Regions from separate parts of the Homo sapiens genome. Here region 2 is linked to region 1. The links come from fine-mapping of genetic effects on gene expression. A gene starts in region 1. The other region holds a variant in brackets. All regions are shown on one strand. Distances are between the middles of the regions.

What was found.
Region 2: its variant is fine-mapped to the expression of CD151 in whole blood (TOPMed, PIP above 0.99).

The regions. Positions count from the first base shown.
Region 1 is chr11:830,567-835,921 of GRCh38, reverse strand. CD151 (CD151 molecule (Raph blood group)) reads right to left here and starts at 2,970. Exons shown (of 9, transcript NM_004357.5): 1 at 2,896-2,970; 2 at 1,331-1,392. It overlaps CRACR2B (calcium release activated channel regulator 2B), which reads right to left. Exons shown (of 9, transcript NM_001286606.2): 6 at 5,209-5,301; 7 at 4,890-5,056; 8 at 4,627-4,698; 9 at 3,936-4,387. The coding sequence ends at 4,213. RefSeq lists enhancers at 1,034-1,573, 3,730-4,267, 4,268-4,807 and silencers at 2,405-2,634, 2,645-3,294, 5,147-5,355.
Region 2 is chr11:694,115-699,469 of GRCh38, reverse strand. It overlaps DEAF1 (DEAF1 transcription factor), which reads left to right and starts at 4,248. Exons shown (of 12, transcript NM_021008.4): 1 at 4,248-4,711. The coding sequence starts at 4,423. It overlaps TMEM80 (transmembrane protein 80), which reads right to left and starts at 3,654. Exons shown (of 5, transcript NM_001042463.3): 1 at 3,624-3,654; 2 at 582-601. The coding sequence starts at 3,642. RefSeq lists enhancers at 2,110-2,649, 3,190-3,729, 3,730-4,271, 4,272-4,811 and silencers at 3,257-3,676, 4,177-4,476, 4,487-4,606, 4,627-4,876. The variant G/A (reference allele first, on the strand shown) is at 1,991.

The sequences.
Region 1 (5,355 bases):
AGGTCAGGAGATCAAGACCATCCTGGCTAACACGGTGAAACCCCGTCTGTACTAGAAATACAAAAAATTAGCCGGGCGTGGTGGCGGGCGCCTGTAGTCCCAGCTACTTGGGAGGCTGAGGCAGGAGAATGGCGTGAACCCGGGAGGCGAAGCTTGCAGTGAGCCGAGATGGTGCCACTGCACTCCAGCCTGGGCGACAGAGTGAGACTCCATCTCAAAATAAATAAATAAATAATAAAAAGAGACTAGCAAATTAACCCAAAGAAAGTAGAGGAAAGGAGTCCAGGTGCGGTGTCTCATGCCTATAATGCCAGCACTTTGGGAGGCCAAGGCAGGTGCAATCACTTGAGGTCGGGAGTTCACAACCAGCCTGGCCATTGTGGTGAAACCCCATCTCCATCAAAAATATACAAAAATTAACTGGGCGTGATGGTGGGCGCCTGTGGTCCCAGCTACTTGGGAGGCTGAGGCAGGAGAATGGCATGAACCCGGGAGGCGGAGCTTGCAGTGAGCCGAGATGGTGCCACTGCACTCCAGGCTGGGCGACAGTGAGACTCCATCTCAATAAAAAAGAAAAAAAAGAGGGGACACAGATACCCAAGCCAGCCCAGAAGTCGGGGCAGAGCCAGCCACTGTCCTGGGAGGCCTGTGAATGAGCCCCTGTGGGAACAGGACGTGTCACTTCCTAGCGACTCAGGAGCCCTGACAGCCAGGACAGACCCCTGGTGCCCACAGACAGGACAGGGGTCATGGAGGACCTCCCGCCATCACTGCTGACTCACCCCTGCTAGCGGCCGGGGGAGGAAGCCCTAGCGGGTACCTCCGGTGAGCTCATGCCAGCCTGCCCGCTCCCCACGGCATTCCCGGGGCCGCACGTCACAGGCTGGCAGGAGCCTATGGGCCTGCAGTAAGGGCGGAGGAGGCCACTCAGACAGCAGAGGGGTAGGGGCTCAGACAGGCCCCAGCTCAGCCCCTTCCTAAGCTCTCCAGGCCTGTTTACGGTCTGTTAAAGGGCAGCCCTTCCTTCATCCTGGCCGGGGTGGGGAGAATGGAGCGTGGAGGCAGGTGGAGCCTGGCAGACTGGGAGGGTTTTTCCTGGACAGGCGACCCACACCAACCTGAGGGGGCAGCACAGACAGGCTATGCCCCTCCCCAGATGCCCCGTGCCCGCCCGACCTGCAGCAGTGGGCAAGCTGTGAGCATGGGGAAGCCAGGGAGGGCGTGGGGTGCAGACAGCAGCTGAGCGCCCTGGGCCACGTTTCCAGACAGCACAGCCAGGTCTGGACTTTCGCCGCCCCGCCTGCTCTGCCCCACCCTGGCCAGCACTCACCAGCCGGGCTGGAAACGACTCCTCTGCAGGACAGGTGGACAGAAGCTCCCCAGGACTCTAGGCTAGAGGGGCAAGGACATGTCAGGTCACAGGTTACAGGTCTGGCCCAAGGGCCAGAGTGGGCCGGGTTCATTCTGGAGGCAGAGAGAGGAGTGGCCAAGCCCGGTATTTTAGTCTGGGCTAGGGTGGGGCAAGGCACAAGACATTTTGTTTTTTTCTTTTTTTCTTTTTTTGAGATGGAGTTTCGCTCTGTCACCCAGGCTGGAGTGCAATGGCACGATCTCAGCTCACTGCAACCTCCGCCTCCTGAGTTCAAGCAATTCTCCTGCCTCAGCCTCCTGAGTCACTGGGATTACAGGCACCCACCACCACGCCCAGCTAATGTTTGTATTTTTAGTACAGACAGAGTTTCACCATGTGGACCAGGCTGGTCTCGAACTCCTGACCTTAGATGTTCCACCCGCCTTGGCCTCCCAAGGCAGACGACATTTCGGGACAGTCTGATCCTGGGAGGGACCTCATACCTTCCCCCAGGTGCCCCACTCTTGGCCTTCGCTCCAGACCCATCACTGGCCCTTCCCCCACAAACAGCGGCAGCTACAGCCTGGGAAAGAGGCATCATGGAATGGAGCTGGAGGGGGACAGACCTTACCACTGAGCTGAGAGGGGATATTCACCCTCCATGAAGGAGCCAGGGCCTAAATACACGCAGGAAGGGTGGCACAGGCAGACCCTGCCACCAGCGGGGGGATGTGTCTGCCACCGGGGGGCGGGGTGTGCGTCTGCCACCGATGGGGGGATGTGTGAGCCCCTCAAGGACCTGCCCCTGGCCTGGCTGTAAGGTCCCAGGCTTTCTGGAGAAGTTGGTTCTGGGCACAGATGCGTCCTCCACCGCGAGGACACAGGCGACCCGCTGAGGAGTGGCCCCTCTTCCCAGGAATGCCTGGTCCCTCTGGACCCCCTGGGAAAGGGCCTTCCAGAAATAGTTGTCTGTTCCTCCCCAAGTCCCCGGGACCTGCACCAGGCCCCTGGGCGGCCCGCGCCCTATCAGGGGGAGCCCCAGTCAGGGGGACCTGGGACTCCGCGCCTGCCAAGCGTCCCCGGGGCACTGCAATGAGGTCACCGCCGCCGCCGACCCCGCCCGGCGCGGCCAATGGCGCGCCCACTTGCACGCGGGCGGGGGCTGCTGCGGGCGGAGGGAAGACTGCCGTGTCCAGGGACAATGAGCAGGGTGTCCAGGCTGCGCGTCCCGGGACCCCTGGGCTGAAGGGGGCCGTCAGGCCGGTCCAAGGGCCCGGGAGGCGCCTCTCCTTCCCGCTGCGCCTCCCCAACCCGCCCGGAGTCCGCCTCCCGCGGAAGGGCAGGCGAGGGAGCTGGGGCAGGCGAGGGAGCTGGGCCAGGCGGTGGGTGCGGCCTCCCGGAACCTCCCGGCGCCTGCGGCTGGGCCTCCGGGGCTGGGGCGCGCAGGGCCTTCGGCCCCCTCGCGCCCCTCGCCCCCCTCGCGCCCCTCGCCCCCCTCGCCCCGCTCGCCCCGCTCGGCCGAGCTGTCGTGGCCGCGCACTCACCTACCACGCGTCCGAGTCCGGGCCCTGGCGGCGGCGGCAGCAGCTGCGGGGGCGGCGGCTCCCAGCGCTGAGAATGCGCGGCCCGGAGCCTACGAGGGGGACGCCCCGCCCCGCCCCGCCCCGGCCCCGCCCCGGCCTCAAGCCCCTCCCGCGGCGGCGGGCGCTCGGCAGGTCTGAACCCGCGTGGGTGTAGGCGCTGGGGGTCGACCTGGCACTGCGGAGGCCGGGCGAGCTGCAGCCCTGGGGGCGCCAATAGCCCAGCAAGGGCCCATCCCGTCCAAGGACGGAGGAGCTGGGCGGGAGGCGGGCCCGGAGGTAAGACGGCGACCAGCCTAGCCAGAGGCCCTGGGCTGTGGCGACCCGGCCCTCCTCCATGCCCAACCCCCATCTCTTTCTCCTCACCCAGGAACCGCCCAGAGGCTGCAGGGGTCGGCAGAACCGATGCCGGCCTGGGGCGTGGGAGGGCCTAGCGCTGTGGGCAAATGCGGGAGAAGGGCTACTGTACGTGCAGTGTGGACAGCCTGGAGACCCGGGCAGGCCTGGGGTCCCAGCGAGACATACCCATGGGGTCCTGGGGGGCCCATGCCCTCCAGACTGGAAGGGACCACTGGGAGCGGTGCGAGGAGGTGAGGGACGAAGGGCAGGGCCGGCCTAGGGCTGCACCAAGACGCCAAGAGTGGGAGTGAGGAAGGAGGGGGCTGCCCACCCACCAAGCTCATTCATCACAGCCACAGGGGAGGACCAGCATGGGAGGGGGTGGCCGACTGAGGCCGGGAACCTGCCCGGCCTCCCTGGCGAGACAGTGGGGAGCCCTGATCCACACACTGGCGAGGGCCCCGAGGGGCTCCAGCCTTGATGGGTAGTGTGAGTTTGGGGCATGACCAGGGACACAAGAGGACACGCAGGACCTCAGCCCCATCGCCACAGGCCCGCGCTCCCTGTATTCACCCACACAGCACGCGTGCACAGGTGCCCACCTCATCCATGTGGCACACACAGGCTGTGGCTCCCAGACACACGGAAGGCCCAGGAGGACGCAGTGCAGTCAGTGGGTTTTATTTGACGAGGGGGTTTTCTGCTGAACTGAGATGGGGTTGATTGAACGGGGACAGAGCGAAGACTGGCAGAGGGCACACACGGGACCCTGGCCACTCCCGGGACCCTGACCACTCCTAGGCTAGGTCCTTCATGTCTTCAGTCAGGCGAGCCTGGGGCCCACTGGGGAGAGCCTGCATCCTGAGTGGGCACCCCCGACCCATGACAAGCCTCCTGCAAGGGCAGCTTCTAGCTCATGGTCCGTGAGTCACTCGGGGCTGGTCACCGGGCACTGGGAAGGTGGCCAGAGCCGCGTCTGGGGGGCCGAGCCCAGCAACAGCAGCAGCAGCAGGTGGGCCCAGGCAGGCGGGCTGTTGTCAGAGCCTTCCTGCAGCTGCTGCCCGCCCGCCTGGCCTCGCAGGCGTCCCTGTCATCCCGCAGCCGTGTATTCAGCTCCCTAGGGAAGGAGGAGTCCGACACTGAGAGGGTCTGAGGGAGCTCAAGGTGGGGGGAGGTGAGCTCCGACTCCCCTCAGAGCGAAGAGAGGTGTCTGGCTGAGGCTGCAGCGTGAGGGGTGAAAGGCAGGCATAAGGAAGGACTTCCAATGGAGTAGAGCGGCAGCCAAGAATGTTGGGGAGCTGGGAGCCCCCAAGCTCCGCTGAGCCCATTCCCTCTCGGGCCTGAGCCTGACCGTACCTGAGCAGCTCCAGTTGCCGTAGCAGGCTGACTTTCTCTTTCTGCATGTTCCTGGAGACGGCGACCACGTCTCTGTGGATGGGAGGTGGTGACCCGGCTGCAGGAAGGCTCCTTGGGGAGCCCCCGGACCCCCTAGAAGATCCTCCTTCCCACGGGGCGGGCCTGGGACTTGAGATGGGGATGAAAGTGGCCCAGACCTGAGCGCCCGTCGGCCCCGCCCCCGGGACACGCACCGGGGCCCGCCCAGCCCCGTCCCACGGCACCGTTGGGTTTGCTCCTGGCGGCCTCGTGCTTCGCTCTCCAGCCTGCGGATCTGCTCCTGCGCCCCCTCCAGCTGCGTTCGCAGCGCCTCGTGCGCCCGCCACAGCTGGGAGTTCTGGGCCTGTGCCTCCAGGTGCTCCGCAGCCTGGGCGTGCAGCTGCTGCTCTAACTGGAGGGTGGAAGGATGGAGACCGGCGAGGAACGCCCCCTCTTCCCCGGGGTGCTGCGCGTGCCCCAGGCTCCCGACAACCCGGGGACGCTAAGGCACAGGGGGAGAGTGCACGGGTGACCGTGGGGACAGGGCAGGGGCCGGGTGCTCACCTCCCGCTGCCGCAGGCCCGCGCGTTCCAGGTCCTGCTCGCGGCTCTGCAGCTCCAGCTCCAGACGGCTTCTCCGCTCCCCGCGGGCGAAGTTCTGGGACGCACGGAGGACCACTGAGCCTCCGCCGGCCGCTCGGCCATGCAAAAG
Region 2 (5,355 bases), 140 kb after region 1:
CGGCCACTTTTTTCAGTTTCTTCAGAGGAAATATATTTCTGTTTGGGGGACTTAAGTATCTAGTAGCCATTTCCTGAGCTGTGTACATTTCCTATTTGTTTATGCTAACATGAGTCTATGGGGCCAGGCACAGTGGCTCCCGCCTGATGCCAGAGCTTCAGGAGGCTGAGGCTGCAGTGAGCTGTGATTGCCACACTCCAGCCTGGGTGAGAGGAAGGCTCTGTCCTTAAAAAAACATAAACAAACAAAAATAAAATAAAATGAATCTAGGGACAAAGTGAGGGATTTCCATCTTCCTGCCACTAGCGGCCGAGACAGAGGCAGGTGGCCATCGCCTTGGGAGCCGGCAGTGTGGCGTGCTTAGCCACTTTGTGCAGGGCTGAGCAGGTAGGGGATGGAGCCAGCAGAACTGATCCGAGGAAGTTACATCAACTCTCTAAATCTGTCAAGGAACACCCCCCTCTCCAAAGTGGAATTACTAGACAGAACTTAGGGAAAACGTGGGGTGAGGCCGAGTGCTCTCTGTGCAGCAGCAATTCGGGCCTCTGGGTGCTGTCCTGGAGGGGCACGCAGCAGGATACCACTGTGGAGGATCCTCTCCCTGAAAGAGAAAGGGGCCGTGAGCAAGGCCTGACAGCCACCAGGATGCTTTCCCGGGTCTCGCTCCACACTGACAGGAACCACCCCTGCTTTATTTTCCTTTGATCTCGTATTTGTAGAAAGCAGCAAACATATACCGTGGGCCTGCCACTAGATAGCTCCCGTGCCTCTCTAACCATCCTTCAATGAGGCTAGGAGTCTCTGCCTTTCAGAACCTGAGGCTGGAGACAGCGAGTACCGGGGGCACCGGGGTGGGAAGTGAACCTGGGCCAGACCCAGCTGGCCCTCAGGGAAAGCAGCACCCTGGAGCCCACCCCAACAGCTGCTCTCATTGTCTGTGGCTCACCGTCTGTGGCTTCTCCGTATTTGCCACACATATATGACTAGATGAAAACCTTTTCTGACTTAGGTTGTAACAAATCTTTTTTCATGATTGATGAGACATTTGCTTTCCTCTGAAATTTTATCCCCAAATATCCCTCCAAAAATAAGGATTTTCCAAACCAGCAATGCAGCTGTCCAGTCTTTTTATCATGCAACCTCTTGGGCCTTCTCCCACCCCCACCTGAGAGATGACAGGAAGCCCGAGGAGTGAGTGGAGTCTCTTTCCTCCTTTTTGATTCTGAGGTTTTGCATCTGAAGACGCCTCTGACTCACCCTGGATCCACGCTGACCTGGAGCGGACTAATTGTCTGAAAAGGGCTCAGGCCAGTTGCACGTGTGATATGTGCACGTCCCTCCATGTGTAGATACCTCAATACACATCTAGAATTGGGTGGAAACCTCTCATAAAAGGAGGCTCAAGCTGCACCGCTGGGCGGCAGGCAGGACAGCAACCTGAACACAGCCTCTGTTCTATTTCCCCTTCAGCGCCAGGGAGGGCAGGACAGAAACCTGGCGTTGGTGAGATTTTGTGGCTGATCCCACAGCTTCTTGGGCAGATCTGGGGCCTTCTGTGCCAGAGTTTGTGGAATCTCACACAGGCAAGAGTTTTAAGCCAGTAAATACAGGACATCGGCATCAGAGACTCAGAACTGGGCTCCTGGAAGAGGCACCACAGGATGGAAGCAGGAAGCCAAGTGCACGGCAGACCACGCCGCATCGCGTTCCCGGCAGGCCACTCTTTAAACCCGATCTGTTCTTTTCCAGGCCTTAGCTAAACCAGGCCACCTAAATACCTGTCATTATCTGTGATGATTTCGCATTAATTGGGGTTTTTGTCCCTTCTGTTCCTTTTCTTAAAGGCTGGCTTCTTAAACACTTCCAATGTGTCTGCTAGTTGCTCACTGTTATAGATTGAAGTTATGGGGCTTGGGGGAAAAACTGTATAAAAGCCTTAAGTGATGTAACATTTTAATAATTAATATGAAGGGCGGCTATAACCAGATAC[G/A]CTGTTCTAACAATTCCAGACCTGCAGGAGCTCATTCTGACCGAACGTAGCCTTGGCTTTCAGGACAACATTTTTTGTCAGTGACTTACTATAATCACAATGTGGCTACGAATAGCTGTGTCAGGCAGAAGTTAAACATGGAAGTGAAAGAGAACAAGTGTTTTCCCTGATGTAATGGACAAGATGTGTTAAGAAATCTTGTTTTGGTATACACTTAGTTTTTTTAGAGACAGGGTTTTGCTCTGTTGCCCAGGCTGGAGTGCAGTGGCCTGATCACAGCTCACTGCAGTCTCAACCTCCTGGGCTCCAGTGATCCGCCAGCCTCAGCCTCCCACGTAGCTGGGACCACAGGCTCCCTGAGGTAATTTTTTTTTTTTTTGAGACAGAATTTCGCTCTTGTTGCCCAGGCTGCAGTGCAATGGTGCGATCTTGGCCAACTGCAACCTCCGCACCCCACCCCCCCCACCACCACCACCGGGTTCGAGCAATTCTCCTGCCTCAGACTCTCAAGTAGCTGGGATTACAGGCATGCACCATCACGCCAGGCTAATTTTGTATTTTTAGTAGAGACGGGGTTTCTCCATGTTGGTCAGGCTGGTCTTGAACCCTCGACCTCAGGTGATCCGCCCGCTTTGGCCTCCCAAAGTGCTGGGATTACAGGCGTGAGCTACTGCGCCTGGCCTTCCCCGGGGTAATTTTTAATTTTTTTTTTGTAGAAGGGGGTCTCGCTCTGTCGCCCAGGCTGGAGTGCAGTGGCGCCATCACGGCTCACTGCAACCTCGACCTCCTGGGCTCAAGTGATCCGCCAGCCTCAGCCTCCAGAATAGCTTGGCCCACAGGGGTGCGCCACCGCCTGGCTGATGTTTACAGTTTTTTTTTTATAGAGGGGGTCTTGCTATGTTGCCCAGGCTGGCCTCAAATGATCCTGCAGCCTCGGCTTCCCAAACTGTCAGGCTTACAGGCCTGAGCCACTGCGCCCAACCTAAACTTAATTTTTAACCAAATGAAAATACACAAAACAAACCTGGTTACTAGAGGCTGTCCTGCCTATGGAGTAGCCATTCTTTATTCCTTCAAAACAATGCACCTAATTACTAGAGAACACGCACGAAGGTTTGGCACTTCAGCGCCCGCGTATGGGAGTTCTGGCTGTACCCACAGACAGCAGAAGGCGGCTCCTCTGCAGGATGGCCGATTTACTGCTTTGGTCTGTCCCTTCCTCCTCTCGGAGGCGAGTCTCTCAGGCAGGACGGCTGAGGCACCGGCGCCCGCGATTTTCTTTGGCGAGAGTTCCAAGGCTACCGAAACCCTGCGCCCATCCCGCCCACGTGTCTTCACAAAAACCACGCGCGGGACAAGAGCTGCCGGGGACTGGGGCCCCCAGAGCCGCTCCGCACCCACCCTGCCCGGGGCCAGGCGCCCGCGCGCGGGGGAGCTCTTCGGGGTGCAGGACGCCCGCCACCCAGGCCAGGCCAGGCCGCGCTTCTCGATGGGGTGACGGAGCTGTCTCGCTCACGTAGAGACGGTGGCACGGCCCCGTGAGCGCACCGAAAGCGGAAACCGGATTGTCACCACAGGGAAACGCCGCGCCCGCCGCTGCAAGCCCGGAAGCCCCCACCCCGCCCGAGCTCACCTCGCCGCGGGGCCGCCATCTTACCCGCCCCGCCCGCCGGTCCGTCGCGATCCCGGCAGCCTCTCGGCCCGCGCGCTCGCGCTCCTTCGGCCATTTTCGCGTCTCCTGACGAAGGGGCCCGACCGCGCCGCGTTTCGGGAGCGGACGTCCGAGCCACGGCCGAGGCCCGATTAGTCCGTCCGGCACCGCTCGGGCACTTTCGGAAGGGAAGAGGTGGAGAACCGACGTTCGGGAGCATTCGGCCTCGGGGACATTCGGCTCGTCTCGGCTCGGCCTCGGGCTGACTCGGCTTCCGCCGGCGGCGGGAACGGGCGAAACCCGCGGCACTAAGCTCTCTCTGAGAGGCAGAATTGCGCCGGCCGCCGGCGAGAATCTGCCTAGAGCCGTCCAGCCCTGTCGGCCGGGGACGACAGCCGCCTCAGCCTGTCAGGACAGTGAGGAGAGCAGGGGCCGAGTCTCTCGGAAGCCCTCGTGAGGACTCGGACCTATTCGGACTGATTCGGCTTCCCACTTCGGGGAACTTCGACCCTCCTCGGTTCAGGACTCGGTCTCGGCTCGGCGGCTTCGTGCAGGTTCGGCTCCTACTCGGGCAGCCTCTGTTCGCCTCGGCTCCGCTCCGCGGGCGGACTCGGCTCGGCTCTGCTCGGCGGCTGGCTGCCTTTTCGGTCCCTATTCGGGCGGCGGCTTCGGGCGGCCTCGGCCCAGCTCGGGCGTCCTCTTCGGGCCCCGCTTCGGGCTCCGCGACCGGCGCTTCGGGCGGTCCCGGACGGCGCCTTCGGGAAGGCTCGGCGGAGTCCGGATGGAGGACTCGGACTCGGCGGCAAAGCAGCTGGGCCTGGCTGAGGCGGCGGCGGTGGCGGCCGCGGCCGCTGTGGCGGCGGCGGCCGCGGCCGCGGCAGGAGGCGAGGCGGAGGAGCCGGTGCTGAGCAGGGACGAGGACTCGGAGGAGGACGCAGACTCGGAGGCGGAGCGGGAGACGCCGCGGGTCACGGCAGTGGCGGTGATGGCGGCGGAGCCCGGGCACATGGACATGGGCGCCGAGGCCCTGCCCGGCCCCGACGAGGCCGCCGCTGCCGCAGCCTTCGCAGGCAAGTGCGCCCGCCGGCCTCTCGCCTCGTCCGGTTCCCGCGCGCCTACCCCGCGCGCCTGCCCCGCACAACTGTCCCAGGTGACCAGCCCGCCACACCTGTCCCTCACACCTGCTCCACGTGACCAGCCCGCTCCACCCGCCCTGCACACCTGCCCCTCACACCTGCTCCACGTGACCCGCCCGCCCCACCCGCCCTGCACACCTGCCCCACGTGACTAGCTCACCCCTCACATCTGCCTCTCACACCTGCCCCACCCGCCCCTCACACTTTCCCCACGTACCTGCTCCAGGTGACCAGCCTGCCCCACCTGCCACAAATACCTGCCTCGCACACCTGCTCGACGTTTCCAGCCTTCCCCACCTGCCCCACGTGATCGGCCTGCCCTACCTGCCCCGCACACCTGCCCCACATACCTGCCCCAGGTGACCAGCCTGCCCCACCTACCCCAAACACCTGCCCCGCACACCTGCCCCTGGTGACCTGCCTAGCCTCACCTGACCTGGCCCTGCCCTGCACACACCTGCCCCCTGCCCCCCTTTTCTTTGTGGCAGCCCCGCCTCCTACTGGTCCCCCCTGTGCAGCTCTGCCCCTGCCCTGCCTTCGTCCATCCTGGCTCCCCCCACCTGTCCTGGAGAAGCCCT